Regions from separate parts of the Homo sapiens genome. Here region 1 is linked to region 2. The links come from fine-mapping of genetic effects on gene expression. A gene starts in region 2. The other region holds a variant in brackets. All regions are shown on one strand. Distances are between the middles of the regions. Region 1 overlaps LOC105369753 (a long non-coding RNA gene). Region 2 holds the start of ZNF641 (zinc finger protein 641).

What was found.
Region 1: its variant is fine-mapped to the expression of ZNF641 in whole blood (INTERVAL, PIP above 0.99).

Annotation. Positions count from the first base shown.
Region 1 is chr12:48,271,371-48,282,316 of GRCh38, reverse strand. It overlaps LOC105369753 (a long non-coding RNA gene), which reads left to right. Exons shown (of 4, transcript XR_944923.3): 4 at 2,866-3,311. Among named protein-coding and RNA genes, the nearest start is that of H1-7, 52 kb to the left of the region's middle. The variant A/G (reference allele first, on the strand shown) is at 5,948.
Region 2 is chr12:48,345,881-48,356,826 of GRCh38, reverse strand. It overlaps ZNF641 (zinc finger protein 641), which reads left to right and starts at 5,908. Exons shown (of 6, transcript NM_001172681.2): 1 at 5,908-6,041; 2 at 8,712-8,920; 3 at 9,484-9,575. The coding sequence starts at 8,737. It also overlaps the pseudogene OR5BK1P. RefSeq lists silencers at 5,398-5,477, 5,758-6,187 and enhancers at 5,153-5,889, 6,328-6,397.

The DNA of each region.
Region 1 (10,946 bases), 75 kb after region 2:
GCCCAGCTCCTAATAGGCCACTGACCAGTACCAGTCTGTGACCTGGGGGCTGGGAACCCCTATAGTAGCTAATCTGTATGTTCTACATCAGCGAGCTCCTTTGTCCTCTGGCTTCCATTTGGGTTCTACCAAGGGGGACACTGGAGTGAGATCTAGGAATTATTCTGCCAGCAAACCTCTCTGTAAATATGACTTTATTTGAAAATAGTGTTTTGTAGATACAATCAAGTTGAGATGAGGCCAAACTAAATAAAGGCAGTCCCTAATCCAATGACTAATTCTTAGAAGAAGGGGGAAGTTTGAACACACACAGAGCCGCACAAGGAGAATGTCATGTGATGACAGAGGCAGAGATTAAGGTAATGATAAGGCAAAGGATGCCAGGGGTTTCTGGCAGTTACCAGGAGAGAAGCATGGAACAGATTCTCCCTCAGAATCTCCAGAAGGAACCAATTCTGCCAACACCTTGATTTTGGACTTCTAGTCTCCAAAACTGTGAGAGAATACATTCCCACTCCTTTAGGCCACTCAATTTGTGGTCGTTTGTTATGGCAGCCCTAGGAGATGAATAGATTGATTGGACATTTTTCTTTGGTGTTATGTTAGAAATATCTGTGTTGAGTGGACCCATTACAATTTTAATGTGTTTTCTCCTGATTATGATAGTAATACATTGAAACTACAAAAAAACTATAAAGAAGAATAACAATTCAAAAATATTCATGACTTCTATAGTTATCATTTTGGTATATTTCCACTGCCTAAATGTGATTTGGCATAACTTTTTCACATGATATGTAGAATTTTCATCCTGAATTTTCCTTAAAATTATAGGTAAGTATGTATCCGTGGTATAAAGAACTCATCATAGATATATTGACTGTATAAAATGCCATTATGTAGGTGTTCTATATTTAATTTAACAGTTTATCTCTTGTAGAATAATTGTTGTCCATTTGTTATTATTAGAAACATTCTGTGATGCCGGGTGCAATGAGATTAATGTCTTTTTTTTCCAGAAGGGGATTTAATTTTTATCCCAGTCAGTGATTGGGATAGATTATATGAGAAGTGTATGTTAATAGATATGTCCCAAAGTCAGGGACTTTCTGACTAATCCAGAAATAACTGCAAGGGTAAGATTTAGGGTGAGAATAGAGAGGACTTTGTAGGGACAGTACTTAAGTTACACAGCTGGGAGAGCTGGTGCTGGAGTTGCCATTTTACTCATGATACTTGGAACAAGATCTGCAGGGACACCTCCTGGACATGGGCCCTTTGCTCACTCTTTTAATAAATCCCAGTTGCTCCTGTGATCCTCCTTGGATAGTCACTGAGCAGTCCCTGTAGGTATCTTCCTAACTAAACTCTTGAGAATCATTTAGAGTAAAAGCAAAACTCAAGCTGGCCTTAATTGATCTGATGTAAAGCTGCCCGTGGAGATTTCCACACATGGAACAGCTGGGATTATCTAAGTACCAAATGCTAATGAGACCCTGACGGTCCCGGCTCAACACTACCTTCCCCTCCCCTCAGGCCTGTTCCCCCAGATACCAGAGAAGGAGGAAGGACGAGGGGACCAACTGGGCAGAGATTGGCTGGGACCCAAGTGCCTCCTTAGAGTGTGATCAAGACTATTACTCTGCTTCTCCAGGGAGAAAAGTTTGGAAGTTCAAAGTCATTTTTATTGGCCTAACTGGCATGTGCCGGGCAATGCTCTGCACTATAAATTGAGATTATCAAATCCAGAAAAGGTCAATACATTATATCTTTCTTTGGTCTCCTTCAGAAAGTGAAGTATAGTGAGCTCATATCATGGAAAAATAACCTTTGTAATAAGATTGGAAAACTTATTTCAAGAAGCTTAGGTCCCTCCCTGAGAGGCTGTCACAGGGAAGTTATCCAAGAACCCAATCTATGCAGACCCTTTCTCCTCACCCTAGAACACAAAAGTGTTCAAGTCTTTCCCTCACTTTTTCATTCAAAACATATAATCAGCTTATTATGTGCCAAGCAGGGTGTTGACTATTATGGGAGACAGATGAATAAAATATGGTCTTTCCTTTAAGATGGGTAAAATCCTGGCAGGAAAGAGCTGTCATTTAAAACAATCATTACAAGAGGTAGAGAATGTTAAACACAACAAATGAGGCATAAACAAAATCAAAGGTTCATAAGTGAGACACTATACTCAATTTCTGGCTGAAAAGATAAGGAGAGACCTCAGAGAAGATTAAGCATTTAATCTGAGTCTTAAAAGTTTCCAATGTTCTCTCTTTTCTTTGCCTACGGCTGCTGCCCTGGATTATACCCTCATTATCTCATCTACCTATTTACTCACTCATTCAACACTTTTTAAAAAAACTTACAAATTACCAAGGTCAAGGCCAGCTGTGGGGATACAACAGCAAACAACACAGAAATGGCCCTTTCCTTCATGGTCCTTACAGTCTAGTTGGGAAGATAAGTAAACAGACAAATTAGAATGATGATAGAACTAAACAAAGAGCTAGTTAGAGAACAGCAGGGGATCAGCTTTAGAGAGGAAGGTCAGGGAAGGCCTATTTGAGAAAGTGACACATATGCTAAGACTTAAGGCATGAGAATGAGCAAGGCTTGGCAAAAGTTAGAGAATGAGCAAGGCTTGGCAAAAGTTAGAGAAAGAGCATTCTAGAGAGACGGAACAGCATATTCAAAAGCTATGAAATAGGGAAGAGCTTATAGATATCAAGTTTCTGAAATGTGAATAAAGAAGAAACTAGAATGAGATGAGGTTGGAAAGAGAGGCAGAGGGAGGATGGCCTTGCTCTTATTAGAAGTTTAAATTTTAATTTAAATGTATCAAATTATGCCCCCAATTGACAGACAAGGCAGACTCCCTGTGGCTCAAAAGCTAAAAGCAGAACCAAGAGGCCATAGCAGAGTGAGGGAGTGATCATGCACTCTGTATCTGTCAAAACTATTGTAAAACCAGTTTTTCTGCAATCAAGTCAAAGAACAGTTCCTGAAAACAATGTCAAAAACAACTACAGCTGGAAATTCCCCAACTGACCACCAATAGGTTACCTGGTGCCAGCCAATTACCTGGAATCAGCCAACTAAGAGAGACTGGTTATTTGGGAGATCAAAGGTTTTCCAATCAAGACTGTGTTCCTCACTCCCTGACTCCTCTTCTGGCCTGCAATCTTCATCTTTATGATATATAACTCTCCAATCCCCTCCTTAGAGTGCACTTTTGTTTTGCACTGAAGGCTGTCTCCTCAATCTGCAGGTTGCTTTTAGAAAATAAAGTTCTCCTTTTGCCTCCACAAGAGATCTCATTGCTCTTTTGTTAACATTTCAAATGCAACAGAATATTGTTTTTTAAGTGAATGAACAATGTGAAATGATTTACATTTTAAGATAATTCTTGCTTTGGTTGGGAAAATTGATAGGAGGAAGGCAAGAGTAAAAATGAGAAGGTCCAATTAGGAGCCCAGGGAAGAGATGATGGTATCTTGGATTAGGATGGCACAGAGAAATGTACAGATTCTATATGTACTTTGACAAAAGATTCACTAGCACTTTCTGATTAAATGTGGGGACTGAGGAAAATGGAGGAATCAAAGATAACTCCTAGGTTTCTAAAATGGGCAACTCCATAGGTTAATTTAATAGACTGTTTTCTTTCTCCTTGTAACAGAATAATAATCCCTATCTATGTTAGGGATCTATACAGCCCATTGAATGACCATGTGGCTTGCTTTGACGACTGGGATGTAGGCAGAAGTGATAATAAGCTAGAATCCTCAAGGTCATCTACTAGTTGCAAAAGAGCAGCTGGATCCTAGTAGAAAAGATCCAAAGTAGAAAAGTCTGAAATGAAAACAATAAGCAATATTCATCAACAGGTGGGTAATTTCAGTATGCAGTTAGAAACTAAGAAAAGGCCGGTGCTGGGAAAACTGCTAGCCATATGTAGAAAGCTGAAACTGGATCCCTTCCTTACACCTTATACAAAAATCAATTCAAGATGGATTAAAGACTTAAACATTAGACCTAAAACCATAAAAACCCTAGAAGAAAACCTAGGCATTACCATTCAGGACATAGGCATGGGCAAGGACTTCATGTCTAAAACACCAAAAGCAATGGCAACAAAAGCCAAAATTGACAAATGGAATCTAATTAAACTAAAGAGCTTCTGCACAGCAAAAGAAACTACCATCAGCGTGAACAGGCAACCTACAAAATGGGAGAAAATTTTCACAACCTACTCATCTGACAAAGGGCTAATATCCAGAATCTACAATGAACTCAAACAAATTTACAAGAAAAAAACAAACAACCCCATCAAAAAGTGGGTGAAGGACATGAACAGACACTTCTCAAAAGAAGACATTTATGCAGCCAAAAAACACATGAAAAAATGCTCACCATCACTGGCCATCAGAGAAATGCAAATCAAAACCACAATGAGATACCATCTCACACCAGTTAGAATGGCAATCATTAAAAAGTCAGGAAACAACAGGTGCTGGAGAGGATGTGGAGAAATAGGAACACTTTTACACTGTTGGTGGGACTGTAAACTAGTTCAACCCTTGTGGGAGTCAGTGTGATGATTCCTCAGGGATCTAGAACTAGAAATACCATTTGACCCAGCCATCCCATTACTGGGTATATACCCAAAGGAATATAAATCATGCTGCTATAAAGACACATGCACACGTATGTTTATTGCAGCATTATTCACAATAGCAAAGACTTGGAACCAACCCAAATGTCCAACAATGATAGACTGGATTAAGAAAATGTGGCACATATACACCATGGAATACTATGCAGCCATAAAAAATGATGAGTTCCTGTCCTTTGTAGGGACATGGATGAAATTGGAAATCATCATTCTCAGTAAACTATCGCAAGAACAAAAAACCAAACACTGCATATTCTCACTCATAGGTGGGAATTGAACAATGAGAACACATGGACACAGGAAGGGGAACATCACACTCTGGGGACTGTTGTGGGGTGGGGGGAGGGGGGAGGGATAGCACTGGGAGATATACCTAATGCTAGATGATGAGTTAGTGGGTGCAGCACACCAGCATGGCACATATATACATTTGTAACTTAACCTGCACATTGTGCACATGTACCCTAAAACTTAAAGTATAATAATAATAAATAAAAAAAAGAAACTAAGAACAGGCCAAAGAAAGGTTAGAAAATATTTAAATGTATGGTAATAGTGGTGAAGAAGGCCTTCAATGGGTTCATAAGTAGACTGAACATAGCCAAAGGGAAAACAATTAGTAAACTGGAAGATATGTCAACAGATATTACCAAAACTAAAGGAAAAAAATTAAAAAGAATAGAAAAAGGACAGAACATATGAGTTATGTGGCAATATTAAACAGGCTAACATACATGTAATTAGAATTCCAGAAGAGAAAGAGATCAGAGTAGAAAAATAAACGAAGAGATGATAGCTGAGAATTTTCAAAAAATAATGAAAGACATCAAACCACAGATCCAAGAAGCTCAGAGAATCATAGTGATATAAATACCAACACACACACACACACTACACACACACGATGTGTCCTATTTAAACATTTGAAAACCAAAGATAAAGAGAAAATCTAGAAGACAGTCAGACAAAAAAGACACATTACCTAAAGGAAAAAAATTAAATTTACAGCATAGTCATCACAAGAAACTAAGACATAGAGTGACATCTTTAAAATGTTAAAAGAAAAAAAAAGTAACATGGAATTCTATACCAAGTGAAAATACTTTTCAAAATGAAAGAGAAATTAAGCAGACCTATGCCACAAGAAATGTTAAAGAAAGTTCTTGGCTGGGTGTGGTGGCTCACGCCTGTAATCCCAGCATTTTGAGAGGCCAAGGTGGGTGGATCACTAGGTCAGGAGATTGAGACCATCCTGGCTAACACGGTGAA[A/G]CCCTGTCTCTACTAAAAATACAAAAAAGATTAGCAGGGCATGGTGGTTGGTGTCTGTAGTCCCAGCTACTTGGGAGGCTGAGGCAGGAGAATGGCATGAACCCAGGATGCAGAGCTTGCAGTGAGCCAAGATCGCGCCACTGCACTCCAGCCTGGGTGACAGAGTGAGACTACATCTCAAAAAAAAAAAAAAGAAAAAAAAAAAAAGGAAAGTTCTTTAAGAGGAAGGAATGTAATACTAGACAGAAACTTGAATCTATGCAAAGATCTTTTGGAATTGTTAAAGTCAAAGTAAATATAAAATATTTTTTCTTGTTAATAACTTTAGAAGATAATTTACTGTCTAAAGCAAAAACAAAGGCAACCTACTCTGGGTTTGGAGCACAAGTAAAAGTAAAACATATAACAATTGCATAAAGAGTGAGAGAAATTAGGGAAGTTATTACGCTACACATAAGTGGCATAATACTATTTGAAGGTAGACTGTGATTAAATAAATGTGTTTATGAAAACTCCTAGGGCAGATTGCTGGCAAGATGGCCAAATAGGAACAGCTCCAGTCTGCAGCTCCCAGTGAGATCAACACAGAAGATGGGTGATTTCTGCATTTCCAACTGAGCCTCCACTGGTGATACCCAGGCAAACAGTGTCGGGAGTGGACCTCCAGCAAATTCCAGCAGACCTGCAGCGGAGAGGCCTGACTGTTAGAAGGAAAACTAACAAACAGAAAGGAGTAGCATGTCCACTCAAAGACTCCAACCGAAAGTCACCAACATCAAAGACCAAAGGTAGATAAATCCAAAAAGATGGGGAGAAACCAGCACTAAAAGGCTGAAAATTCCAAAAACCACAACACCTCTTCTCCTCCAAAGGATCATAACTCCTTGCCAGCAAGGGAACAAATCTGGATGGAGAATGAGTTTGAGGAATTCACAGAAGTAGGCTTCAGAAGGTGGGTAATAACAAACTCCTCCGAGCTAAAGGAGCATGTTCTAACCCAATTCAAGAAAGCTAAGAACCTTGAAAAAAGCTTAGATGAACTGCTAACTAGAATAATCAGTTTAGAGAAGAACATAAATGACCTGATGGAGCTGAAAAACACAGCACGAGAACTTCGTGAAGCATACACAAGTATCAATAGCGGAATCGATCAAATGGAAGAAAGGATATCAGGGATTGAAGATCAACTTAATGAAATAAAGCGAGAAGACAAGATTAGAGAAAAAAGAATAAAAAGGAATGAACAAAGCCTCCAAGAAATATGGGACTATGTGAAAAGACCAAATCTATGTTTGATTGAAGTACCTGAAAGTGACAGGGAAAATGGAACCAAGTTAGAAAACACTCTTCAGGATATTATCCAGGAGAACTTCCCCAACCGAGCAAGACAGGCCAACATTCAAATTCAGGAAATACAGAGAATACCACAAAGATACTCCTCGAGAAGAGCAACTCCAAGACACATAATCATCAGATTCACCAAGGTTGAAATGAAGGAAAAAACAGCCAGAGAGAAAGGTCAGTTTACCCACAAAGGGAAGCCCATCAGGCTAACAGTGGATCTCTTTGCAGAAACCCTACAAGCCAGAAGAGAGTGGGGGGAAATATTGAACATTCTTTTTTTTTTTTTTTTTTTTTTTGAGATGGTGTCTCGCTCTATCACCCAGGCTGGAGTGCGGTGGCACAATCTCTGCTCACTGCAAGCTCCGTCTCCTGGGTTCATGCCATTCTCCTGCCTCAGCCTCCCGAGTACATGGGACTACAGGCACCCACCACCATGTCTGGCTAATTTTTTTTGTATTTTTTTTAGTAGAGATGGGGTTTCACCACGTTAGCCAGGATGGTATCAATCTCCTGACCTCCTGATCTGCACACCTCGGCCTCCCAAAGTGCTGGGATTACAGGTGTGAGCCACTGTGCCCAACCAATATTCAACATTTTTAAGGAAAAGAATTTTCAACTCAGAATTTCATATCCAGCCAAACTAAGCTTCATAAGCAAAGGAGAAATAAGATACTTTACAGACAAGCAAATGCTGAGAGATTTTATCACCACCAGGCCTGCCTTTCAAGAGCTCCTGAAGGAAGCACTAAACATGGAAAGGAACAACTGGTACCAGCCACTGCAAAAACATGCCAAATTGTAAAGAACATCAACACTATGAAGAAACTGCATCAGATAAGGGGCAAAACAACCAGCTAGCATCATAGTGACAGGATCAAATTCACACATAACAATATTAACCTTAAATGTAAATGGGCAAAATGCCTCAATTAAAAGACACAGACTGGCAAATTGGATAAAGAGTCAAGACCCATCAGTGTGCTGTATTCAGGAGACTCATCTCATGTGCAAAGACACACATAGACTCAAAATAAAGGGATAAAGGGATGGAGGAATATTTACCAAGCAAATGGAAAGCAAAAAAAAAGAAAAAAGAAAAAAAGCAGGAGTCACAATCCTAATCTCTGATAAAACAGACTTTAAATCAACAAAGATCAAAAGAGACAAAGAACGGCATTACATAATGGTAAAGGGATCAATTCAACAAGAAGAGCTAACTATCCTAAATATATATGCACCCAATACAGGAGCACCCAGATTCATAAAGCAAATTCTTAGAGACCTACAAAGAGACTTAGACTCCCACACAATAGTAGTGGGAGATTTTAATACCCTACTGTCAATATTAGACATATCAATGAGACAGAAAATTAACAAGGATATTCAGGACTTCAACTCAGCTCTGGACCAAGCAGACCTAAAGGACATCTACAAAACTCTCCACTGCAAATCAAGAGAATGTACACTCTTCTCAGCACCTCATCACACTTATTCTAAAATTGACCACACAATTGGAAGTAAAACACTCCTCAGCAAATGCAAAAGAACGGAAATCATAACAAACAGCCTCTCAGACCACAGTGCAATCAAATTAGAACTCAGGATTAAGAAACCCACTCAAAACCACAAAACTACATGGAAACTGAACAACTTGCTCCTGAATGACTACTGGGTAAATAACGAAATGAAGGCAGATATAAAGATGTTTATTGAAACCAATGAGAACAAAGACACAACATGCCAGAATCTCTGGGACATATTTAAAGCAGTGTGTAGAGGGAAATTTATAACACTAAATGCCAGAAAGATCTAAAATTGACAGTCTAACATCACAATTAAAAGAACTAGAGAAGCAAGAGCAAACAAATTCAAAAGCTAGCAGAAGACAAGAAATAACTAAGATCAGAGCAGAACTGAAGGAAATAGAGACACAAAAAACCCTTCAAAAAATCAATGCATCCAGGAGCTGGTGTTTTGAAAAGATCCACAAAATAGATAGACTGCTAGCCAGACTAATAAAGAAGAAAAGAGAGAAGAATCAAACAGACGCAATAAAAAATGATATGGGGGATATCACCACCGATCCCACAGAAATACAAACTACCATCAGAGAATACTGTAAACACATCTATGCAAATAAACTAGAAAATCTAGGAGAAATGGATAAATTCCTGGACACATACACCCTCCCAAGTCTAAACCAGGAAGAAGTCGAATCCCTGAATAGACCAATAAAAAGTTCTGAAATTGAGGCACTAATTAATAGCCTACCAACCAAAAAAAGTCCAGAACCAGATGGATTCATAGCCGAATTCTACCAGAGGTACAAAGAGGAGCTGGTACCATTCCTTCTGAAACTATTCCAAACAATAGAAAAAGAGGGAATCCTCCCTAACTCATTTTATGAGGCCACCATCATTCTGATACTAAAACCTGGCAGAGACACAACAAAAAAAGAAAATTTCAGGCCAATATCCCTGATGAACATCAATGCAAAAATCCTCAATAAAATACTGGCAAACCAAATCCAGCAGCACATCATAAAGCTTATCCACCACGGTCAAGTCACCTTCATTCCTGGGATGCAAGGCTGGTTCAACATATGCAAATCAATAACCATAATCCATCACATAAACAGAACATGTATACCCATGTAACAAAACTGCACGTTCTGCTCATGTACCCTAGAACTTAAAGTATAATAATAATAAAAAAAATTCTAGGGCAGCCACTTAAAAACTGTAAAGATGTATAAATGATAAGCCAATAGTGAAGATAAAATGAAATCATTTAAAAAAGTTTAATACGGCTGGTCGTGGTGGCTCACGCCTATAATCCCAGCACTTTGGGAGGCCAAGGCAGGCGGATCAGGAGGTCAGGAGATTAAGACCATCCTGGCTAACATGGTGAAACCCTGTCTCTATTAAAAATACAAAAAATTAGCCGGGCGTGGTGGCAGGCGCCAGTAGTCCCAGCTACTCGGGAGGCTGAGGCAGGAGACAGGAGAATGGCCTGAACCCGGGAGGCGGAGCTTGCAGTGAGCCGAGATCGCGCCACTGCACTCCAGCCTGAGCAACAGAGCGAGACTTTGACTCAAAAAAAAAAAAAAAGTTAAATACAAAAGTAGGCAGAAAAATTCCACACCCATTTATTACCAAACCTCTTGGAAACTATGTATAGAAGGAAACCTTTCTGAACTGAAAAAGAATACCTTAAAAAATCTGCAGTAGTAGATATTCTAAGAGTACCTTAAAATAGTGTATTTAATAATGATGGACCAAATCTTTTTATCCTAAGACTGAGAAAAGGCAAAAATATCTGTTATCACCACTCTTATTCAACATTATACAGAAGGTCTAGCCTGTAAAATAATGCCAAAAGAAAAAAAGGAATAAAAAGAAAAGAAAGAAATGAGTGACAAAGAGAGAAGGTGGGCAGAGGGAGGAAGAAAAGGGATACAGATTAGAGAGAAATAAATGAGGCCGCGCGCAGTGGCTCACGCCTATAATCCCAGCACTTTGGGAGGCCGAGGCAGGTGGATCACAAGGTCAGGAGTTTGAGACCAGCCTGGCCAACATAGAGAAACCCCTCTCTACTAAAAATACAAAAAATTAGCCAGGTGTAGTGGCGGGCACCTGTAATCCCAGGTACTCGG
Region 2 (10,946 bases):
GACAGTACTAGAAGGTAGGAAAGAAGGGCAAGTGAGGAGATTGTACTTAAGATGACACTTCCTTATCCCGAGTTTCCCATTTTGGGCCATAGGTAAGGAGGTATACTCGTCTGTAAGTAGAAAACTCCTGTTCAGTGAGAATGACTCAGATGAATGCCCTGCCAAGTAGAGAACCATTCATTTCTTTTGAGGGACAGAATCTCTAAGCAACCATAATAAATGTCAATATTAGTCCTGAGTTTGTCCTTGTGGGATTTTCCAGTGATGCAGAGATCCAGATCATGCTCTTTGTGCTAATCCTGGTGATTCATCTCCTGACTTTGACGGGGAAGCTGGTGATGATCCTGGAGATCAGGGCTGATTCTCACCTTCAAAGACCCATGTACTTCTTCCTTTGACATCTGTCCTTTCTGGATCTCAGCTACTCCTAGTTACTGTGCCCAGGATGCTACAAAATTTCCTCTCAGAAGAAAAGCATCTCAATGTGGGGCTGCCTCACCAAGTTTCTTTTTCACTCTCTCTGGGGGAACGGAAGCCTGTCTGTTCTCTGCCATGGCCTATGATCACTATGCTACCATCCGCCACCCTGTGGTCTATACCATGGTCATGAACAGATCTCTCTGTATGGTGATTTTGAGAATTGCTTGGGCAGCGGGATTTCTGATTTCCTTGATGGACAGTCTTTTCACCCACAAGTTACATTTCTGTGGGCCTGACATCATCCTTATTTCAGGTGTAAGCTGCCTCCATTCTTCCCTCTGTCCTACATTGATCCCACTGTCAATGAGATTCTTCTAGCTGTGTCACAGGCATTCTGGGGGCTACTGACACTTTCCCTAATCTTCTTCTCTTACTCTAGAATCACATCTGTCATACTGAGCATCTGCTCCTCTGAGGGCCAAGGCAAAGCCTTCTCCGCATGCCCTTCTCATCTCGCTGTGGTTCTCTCATTCTATGGGACAGCTTTTTTCAGATACCCAGGCTCTACTTCAGGTTCGGTGTTGGGGCAAGTGGTCTCTGTTCAGTATAGTGAACTCTCTTTTCTCCTTGCTGCTTCAAGTACCATTTTCATCCTTCCTCTCTAAATAATGTCCAGCTGCATTGAAGCACATGTCATCAAACTATTCCACACACACTCCTCCTTGTTATTATTACCTACCACACTCCTGGTCACTCACCTTTCATTTAAGACTCCATCAACTGGCTTACTATCCCTCTCTCCATAATGCCTTCATTATTCCTAGTGACTTCAACATCCATGAGGACAATGCATCTCATGCATATGAATATGTGCAAGTATAATTGTATTCCTTGCTAAAATACTGAAATATTTTCATAGCCACTGTCAATCCTCTTCAATGTCATGCCTCAATGCTCTAGCCCCTCATCAGGATTCAACAGATCTCTTCACGATTCAGAAACAAAAAGTAATCATCTAACACAACAAGGTGCCTGCAGGACCCTGCACCAGCGTTATGGGCTACATCTATTTTGATGGGTCCATGCCATGCTAGCACTAGTAGTTAAATATTTTGAACCCTATCCCTGCTAGCACTCTAGTCTCTCAGTTCCTTGGCTTTATTTTACCTTAAATGATTGTGTTCACCACTGCAGCCACTCACTCTCACAGTTCATACCCTGTATCTACTTATGACCAACAGCAGCAGGAAGAATGCTGCTATGTCCCAAGGAACTCTGTATTCCACACATTAGAATCCACCTGTGTGCCCAACTCATCCCAGTTACCAGAATTCCATCAACAGAGCAGCCCAGGACCACCAAGTCTCCTTACAATGATATAATTGGCACCATCAGGTGTATCACTTCCTTTTAAACACAAATATAATGACTCCCTATCACCTGATATAGCAAATAAAAAATTCTTCATCCACCACCTTCATCCACTATTCTATCAATTTCCCTGTTTCTTCTCTACTCTAGACTGACACCCCCACATATGTGTGTTCTTCATTCCACAACATGCCACAGCATGTCCATTTCTGCCTTCTGATTCTATATGGGATGCCCTTCCTACATTTCACCTTCAAAGCTGATCTTGAAACTCCTCCATCAGAAAGTCTGAAAAAGATGGAATCATCTGCCTGCTACTCAATGCATAGTTAATTAATCCCTGCTGTAACATTGCATAGGAGTTTGTACTTGTCCATTGTAAAAGGTAAAGTACCACTCTGGTTAAAGGTGCACCCAGTGAGAAGTCAGACCAGGGCTCAATTCCTGATTGTGCCTCTTGGCTCACTTAATGTCCCTGAACCCATGCAGATCTACACCTTGCAGGGTTTGTTAACTGATAACTAAAGAGATGGCACACCAAAGCATAATATAAAGACATTTTGAATTTATTCCTTGTGATGTTTAAGACAAGGTTCTGTACAAGTACGGACGACCAAAGCAAAAATGGACAAACGGGGTCACATCAAGTTAAAAAGCTTCTGCACAGCAAAAGAAGCAATCAACAAATTGAAGAGACAACACACAGAATGGGAGAAAATATTTGCAAACTACTTATCTGATAAGAGATTAATAACCAGAATATATAAGGATCTCAAGCAACTCTACAGGAAAAAATCTAATACTCTGGTTAAAAAATAGGCAAAAGATTTGAATAGACATTTCTCAAAAGAATACATACAAATGGCAAACAGACATATGAGAAGGTGCTCAATATTACTGATCATCAGAGAAATGCAAATCAAAACTCCAATGAGATATCATCTCACTCCTGTTAAAATGGCTTATATTCAAAAAGCAGGCAATAACAAATGCTGGTAAGGATGTAGAGAAAAGGGAACCCTCATACACTGCTAGTGGGAATGTAAATTAGTATAACTACTAGGGAGAACAGTTTGGAGGTTCCTCAAAAAAACTAAAAATTGAGCTCCTATATGATCCAGCAATCCCACTGCTGGGTATATACCTAAAAGAAAGGAAATCAGTTTATCAAAGAGATATCTGCATTCCCATGTTTGTTGCAGCTCTGTTCACCATAGCCAAGATTTGGAAGCAATCTAAGTGTCCATTAACAGATGAATGAATAAAGAACAAATGGTACTTACACACAATGGAGCACTATTCAGCCATAAAAAAAGAATGAGATTTAGTCATTTGCAACAACATGGATGGAACTGGAAGTCATTATGTTAAGCGAAATAAGCCAGACACAGAAAGACAAACATCACATGTTCTCACTTATTTGGAGGATCTAAAAATCAAAACAATTCAACCCATGGAGATAGAGAGTAGAAGGATGGTTACCAGAGGCTGGGAAGGGTAATGGGGGAATGGGGACAGTGAGGATGGTTAATGGGTACAAAAAATAGTTTGAATGCATGAATAAGACCTAGTATTTAATAGAACAACCTAGTATTTAATAGACCTAGTATTTAATAGTTATTATAGTCAATAATAACTGTACATTTTAAAGTAACTAAAAGGGTATAATTGGATTGTTTGTAACACAAAGGATAAATGCTTGAGGGGATGGATACCTGATTCCCATGATGTGATTATCATGCATTGCATACCTGCATCAAAATATCTCATGTACCCCATAAAGATATTCACCTATTATGTAACTACACAAATTTAAAATTATAAAAGTTATTTTTAAAAAGAAAAGGTTCTGGTATAAAGAAGATGATACCATTCAGCCTCTTTTTTTTTTTTTTTTTTTGAGACGAAGTCTCATTCTGTTGCCCAAGCTGGAGTATTAGTGGCACGATCTCTGCTCACTGCAACTTCCACCTCCTGGTTTCAAGCGATTCTCCTGCCTCAGCCTCCCAAGTAGCTGGGACTACAGGCACGCACCACCATGCCCAGCTAGAGACAGGGTTTCACTATGTTGGCCAGGCTGGTTTTGAACTCCTGACCTTGTGATCCGCCCGCCTCTACCTCCCAAAGTGCTGGGATTACAGGCATGAGACACTGCACCTGGCTTTTTTTATTTTTTGGAAACAATCTCACACTGATTTGTTTCCCAAAACAGTCGAGGAGAGTTTGGGCTATTATAATATCTATCAGTTCTTTCCAAACATTCTTTTCAGGTAAAGTCAGGTTTACGTACTTGGTTATGTTCAATTTAACTCTGTGTGACGAGGCAATGCTGTGTCCAGCAGCGCCCATTTCCTTTTCCATGAGGCACACATTCTTTACTTCCCAGCCACCCTTCTGGGTAGGGCCATGTGACCATGCGCATGAGTTCTGGCTAAGGGAATGGGGTGAAAATGATACACACCACTTCCAGGACTGGCCCCTAATATCTCTGACAAGTTAACCACGGCCAGCCTCCCTTATCTGAGGGCCACAGATTTGACTACATTACCAAGGCCTCGGCATGGGAGAACCACCAAATGCAAGAAGCCTGGTCCTTCAATGAATTCAAGAAGTACAGACCCCACCCTCTGGCCCCAACCAACTTGTTACCACACTGTGACTTGTATGAACATAAGCCTTTATGGAGTTAAGCCCCGAGATACTGGTTTTGCTAGCCTACTCCAATTAACGCACCTTATATTTACCACCAGTGGTAGCATAAGTGAAAAGAACCCCTGGACTTAGTTCCAGGACCCGGGATAAAAATTCTGGCTCTACTACTACCCCGACATATCCCATGATCTGCTCCTAGAATATGCTCTATACTCTTCCCAACTGCGTGTCTACTGCATTTTCCTCTTTCATTAGACAGCCCTCCTGACTCTTCTCTGCCTCACGATTTCTGTCAGAGTGGGGGGCCTTCTCTGACCTCCGTCCCATACGTGGTCACTTCTCTTTGCTTCAAGTGCAGCGTACGTTCCTCTGTTTTAGAATCTACGTTTTTATTGCAAATATTTGTTGACATGTGCTTCCCCAGACTGTGAATCCTTTAACTCCCAGCATTTAGTTACAGTGTCTGGCACACGTAGAAAATAAATATGCATTAAACGAATGATTGTCACATATGACCTTAAGTGAGTCAATTATTTTTTAAGTCTACTAAATAAAATTTTTGAAAATTGTTGTAATGATGAAATAAGGAATGTGAATGTGACTTGTAGGTTATAAACAGATTCTAACAGCAATGGGTTTACTCACTGTTTGTAGGCCCTTCTCATCTTTTCTAGTCAAATCCATCTTAATGCTGCAAGGTAGCACTATCCAATAGAAATATAATGCAAGCCATATTTATAGCCACATTTAAAAAGTTAAAACCAGGTGAAATTAATTTTAATATATTTAACCCAATATACCCAAAATATCACTTTTTAAATTAAATCTTCTAAATCTTGGAACACATCTCTATTCAGACCAGCCACATTTCGAGAGCTCAGGTGTCACCTGCGGCTACGGCTCCCGCAAATGGGACAGCAGCCGCAAGGCCAACTTCAGATAGCAACCTGACTTCCCCTCAGGCAGAATAAGTGACTCCTCCTCAGTGCTCTCTCAAGCCCTTTATCCTATCGTGAAAACTAGAGGGTACGCTCCTTGAGGAATTCCAGACTGTTGTCTGGAGAAATCGCTCTCGGCCTCGGTCTGGCCTGTAACGGGCGGTTACGCAATTCCAGGTAATTGACGAACCCTGAGGACAGAACTCCGTGGGAGGCCCAGTAGCCAGAGCGGAAAATGGTCAGTCAGGCAAGAGTGCGGGCAAGTGGCCACAGCAGGCTGCGATTCCGGCGCCCGCCGCCCTCCAAGCGTCTCGGGCCGCACCCTCCCCACAGCGGCGGGCGCGGAGGTCCCGGGTTCGCGTTTGGGGGCGCCTGAGCCGCAGCCCCGCCCCCTCCCGTCCCTCCCTCCCTCCCTCCCTCCCACTCCTCTCCCTCCCACTCCTCTCCCTCCCACTCCCCGCACCTCCGCCGCCGCAGAGCCCCGGAAGCGGGCGGGGATTTCCTGTGCCCGCCCCGCCCCGCCCGCGCCTGCCGGGCCGCCGTCTCCGCCTGTCGCTGGCTCCGCCGGCCGCCGGCTCCCAGACGCAAGCGGAGGGCGGAGGGGAGGGGCAGGCGGCGCCCGGGAGGGAGGCACCGGGCCGCGGGCCAAGCCTACCGGGGGTGAGTGGAGCCGGGCCGGAGGGAGCTGCGGCTGGAGGGAGGGACGCCTGGCTTCCCGGGGCGGCTGGTGGGGGCTCGGTCACCCATAGGGGCTGGGAGGAGGATCGGCGCGTCTTCCGGGTTGCTGCCTTTCCCGGGGGTCTGCCCCGCTGACATTCTGTGCCCGCCTCTCGCCCTGTCTCCCCGTGCCCATCGCAACTGTCAGGCCCTGCGGGCTCCCGCCGCTGTCACTCGCGCACAGGTTACCCCGTGGCTCCCTTTCTCTTCACTTGCTCATGCCCCAGCTCATGGGAAACCTGTTTTCTGACCTCACTTCCCCTGCTCCAGTTCTGCCTTGCTCGGATTCTCTGAAATCTGACCCTTTCCAGGGGCACTGTGACAAGAAGAAGGGAAGAAGCAACCTTACCCCTGAGCAGGCTCCCGTCCCGCCCATGCCCTACCCGTGGCAGGGGCCAGGGTTCTCTGATGGACGGAGCCAACTCGTCCGTGTGCCCTTGGGCTACTCATTTTTATAACATGGCCCCTTTTCTGTTCATCAGCACTGGCTGCAGAAACTTCCTTTTGCAGGTCCCTTGCTACCCATATGTGTGAAGAAAAGGGGGAAATGAAAGCCCTAGAACCCACACTGCAGTGGGCATGGGATCATCCTGGAACCAGGAGAAACGAGGTTAGGGCTACCACCTTAACCGCCCAGGTGCTGGCTCTGCGTGAATATCTTAGGAAATGCAAGCTGAGGACAGGTACCCATCCCATCCTTTGCTGAGATTTTTGCTAGCACTTCCACGGATTTCTGTCAGTGGTATAGAAAAACTTACAGCTGGCCCAATGGGCTCTGCACAAAGAGGCTTCCCATTAAGAGACTCTGCTACCTGGGGGAGATGGAGAAAGGGTTTGAGACAAGTGTCCAGATATGTAGCTAGAGGTAAAGCCTTCAGGGAGGATTTGCACAGGAGCTAGAGAACCAGAAAGATGGGACGAAGAGGGAGAATTAGTGCCCTGTGTGTTAAAAGTGGATACAGAGCTGGAATTCAGAGAAGAGAGCTAAAATGGAAGTTTCCCTTTATTGCTTTAGCAAGAATTTTCCTTTCTCATGAAAAGTCTCTGAAAAGGAAACCTCCTAGGCTGGGAATCAGTCCAGGGTGCTCCCATGAGGCCCTGAGCCATCTTTGGACTTCTGAGATAAAAAGGGAATTTGTTTTTCCTGTGCATTGGGCTTAGGGTTCCCACCTACCTCTTTTGTCAAAGACAAATAGGCAAGAAAATAGACGACTTGACATCTGTGATTACCTACCCTGGCCTTCAAGGTTCTTGCAAGTGTTATTGAAAGGATGTAAGTAAGCCAGGATAGTTACCAAGTTTCTGACTGCTCTTGGAAGCCTTTCACTGACTCTGACTGTTTGGATATTGAATAAGAATACCCAAAATATGTTGCCAAACAGAAAGAGATTCTGAGTCTCAGATTATTTCTCTGCCATAAAGCCCTATCACAACAGAAGTGTGACCCATCCTGCTCTTAAGTTGTCTAAAGAAAAAGAAGAGCCCACTATCTGGTATTGTACACTGCAGGATTATTAAGAATTAAAAAAAAATAACCTAAATCTCTTCTCTTGCAATCAAGACCCATTTTTTTCTGTTTGACCTATATAGAGATAGAAGGGACCTCTGTTTTTATTCATTAGTAGCATCATTCATCAGCCTTCTTCTCCAGACAGAGAAAACTACATCCGACATTTTTAACTTTCCCAGTGGCTGTATTTCCAATCCCTTTCTTGACTTTGATGTTTTCTGATGAACACACACTGGCTTCACCATACGCTTCTTTCAAACTGAATATATTTTTCTAATGAGATCTGACTGGTGCCTGACAAATAAACAGGTTTGTTCTTCTGGGTCATGTTAGCAGCAGTTCTTCCCCCCTTTTCCAGCTCTGGTTCAAACTCTTTCTGTTCCTTTTTACTTTTCCTGATTAAACTTCAGCTCCTCACAGACCAACAATTTCTCTTACCTCTTAGGATTACTTTGGAGTCTTAACACCTGCTTTCCAAGTTATCAGTTTTTCTACCATATTTACTACCAGTTTTCATTGGATGGTAGACCAAGTGCCTTTTTATTGAGGCTTGTCCCAAGTGAGGTACCTTTTGGCCCAGCCTCATGATACAAATACGCCCCTTGGTTGGGACTTTTACCTATAGTAATCATTTCATTCTAAACTGATGAGACTGTGATTTGTGGCAGAAAATCTTCTGTGTGATTACATCCATCTTGTTGAGTGCAGGTCTATATGTATTTCTTCCTGTATGTTTCCAAATTGCTTACTTTCCTGTACTTCATGTGCTTGAAATTAAATGGATAGCCTTTGAATTTCCAGGACAGTTCTTTTTTTTTAAATGAACTTCTTCTAACCTTCAGGTATATTCTGTTTCTATAATGAGGTCCACAAAATACCAGTTAGTGGCTTTGCTACGTAGCACCTGCCAATTTCTTAGTTCCTCCAAGAAGCTTGGTGCAGGCTCCGTTGATCGGAACACATCAAGCTTTTAAAGTTCATCTTCCAGCAAGCTCCTCCTATCTAGTTTTGTCTATTATCCCTGGGCCTGTTCTTCATAACTCCCTTAGAAATATCACTCCTTTCCCATTTTCATGGGCATTGCTGATATGAATTTGTTCCAGGTCACAATTTGGGTCTGCAGCAGAAATGCTTTCAGAACAGACAGCAGCGCTGGGGACAGGATGGGAATCAATGAATGTACAGCTGGATGGAGCAGAGCCCCAGGTGGAAAGGGGAAGCCAGGAAGAGCGGCCATGGAGAACAGTACCAGGACCTCTGGAGCACCTGTGCTGTGACCTTGAAGAGGAGCCACAGTCCCTTCAGGAGAAGGGTGAGAACTCACAGAGTGTGTGGGAAGCACAGTGCATAGTCTCCTAATATTTATTCCAAAAGTAGGGTTAAAAATCTCCAAATTGCCATGGACTAAATAGCATAACCTGTACCAGGACCAGCCCATTCTTTCTCAGCCCTGGTCACAGGTACAGAATAGGCTCCTGAATTCAGCAAACCATGCAACTGGGCTTCTCTTGTTTCTTCATAATTACTCCCTCCACATGCAAATGCATAATTAGTGATACTGAATGAGGGAGATGAAGGAAGTGACAGCAACCTGATTACTGTTGGATAACCCACTCAGTAAGATGTAATTTACTAGATGAAAATTACATTCAAGTACTGTAAATTCAAACTATAGCTAGTCTAACTAAAAGCCATCTGATACCCTTTCAGAACATTTTGAGTGATGGCCTTCTCATCTACATTTATGCATTTGAGTTTTACCAATGGGCATAGATACAGAAGTTGTGACCCTTAAGCCTCTCTAAAATGGGGCCCAGGCCCCATTGAGAAAGGGTAGATCGTTATTCTCTAATGTTTCTTCTCTCTCCTTATCAGCTCAGTCTGCTCCCTGGGTTCCTGCAATTCCCCAGGAGGGGAACACTGGAGACTGGGAGATGGCAGCTGCACTTCTTGCGGCTGGATCACAGGTGAGCTCTGCTTCCCTTGGCGTCTCCTGTGGTCCCATCACTGCTGCCTTTGTATTGCTTTCGCATCAGCCCATTGATGAGTTGGCTCACATGATCATCAATGGTATGTTCATCTTATAACTGAATAGATTCTATCCCTTTCCAAGGGGTCATAAGACCCTTGGAAAATTAAATGGACCTACAAGAAAGGGAATTCCTTGAGGTTAGGGTTTTTTTGAGTTTTGTTTTGTTTTTTGTTTTTGAGACAGAATCTCACTGTGTTGCCCTGGTTGGAGTGCAGTGGTATGATCTTGGCTCCCTGCAACCTCCACCTTCTGGGTTCAAGCGATTCTTGTGCTTCAGCCTCCCAAGTAGCTGGGACTACTGGCACACGCCACCACACCTAGCTAATTTTTGTGTTTTTAGTAGAGACAAGGTTTTGCCACGTTGGCCAGGCTGGTCTTGAACTGCTGACGTCAGGTGATCTGCCCACCTCAGCCTCCCAAAGTGCTGGGGTCACAGGTATGAGCCACCGTGCCTGGCCAAGGTTAGGGTTTTTAATGGATGGCTGTGTTTGTTATCCACAGGAGGATTTTAAGAATAATTAATTACCTTCCTTTAAGAAATAAATCTGGAAAGATTAGGAAAAGAGGACCTGAAGAAAGCTTAGAAGAACCTAAAGTGGAAGGATTGGGTAGATGAGGGAGCATTTATGGAAAAGAAGAGGAAGAAGGTTATAAAGAGGGGCAGAGCTAGAAAGGAAATTAGGTTTAGATTCAGAAGGCAATAGGAGAGCTGTGGAAAGCTAATACTAATAGTGTTAGTACTAATAGAGTACACCCCCAGAGTGTTTATCATGTATGCCATTTTCTGGGTGCTTTATGTATATTAACTCATTTAATTCTGAGAACAACTCAGTTATCCAATTTTACAGATGAGGAAATGGGGCAGGGAGAGATTAAGGCACTTGTGTAGGTCATGCTGCAAGAAAGTGGCAAAGCTGAGTCACTTGGCTCCAGATTCTGAGCTCCTAACCACCATACTGTGCTGCCTAAAAATATAAAGATATGGCCAGGCACGGTGGCTCATGCCTGTAATCCCAGCACTTTGGGAGGCCGAGGTGGGCAAATCACAAGGTCAGGAGTTCGAGACCAGCCTGGCCAACATGGTGAAACCCCGTCTCTACTAACACCACAAAAAAAATAGCTGGGTGTAGTGGTGGGTGCCTGTAATTCCAGCTACTTGGGAGGCTGAGACAGGAGAATCGCTTGAACCTGGGAGGTGGAGGTTGCGGTGAGCCAAGATTGTGCTACTGCACTCCAGCCTGGGCGACAGTGAGACTCCGTCTCAAAAAAAAAAAAATGCTGTGGCAAGGGAGGCAAGAAAGAATGT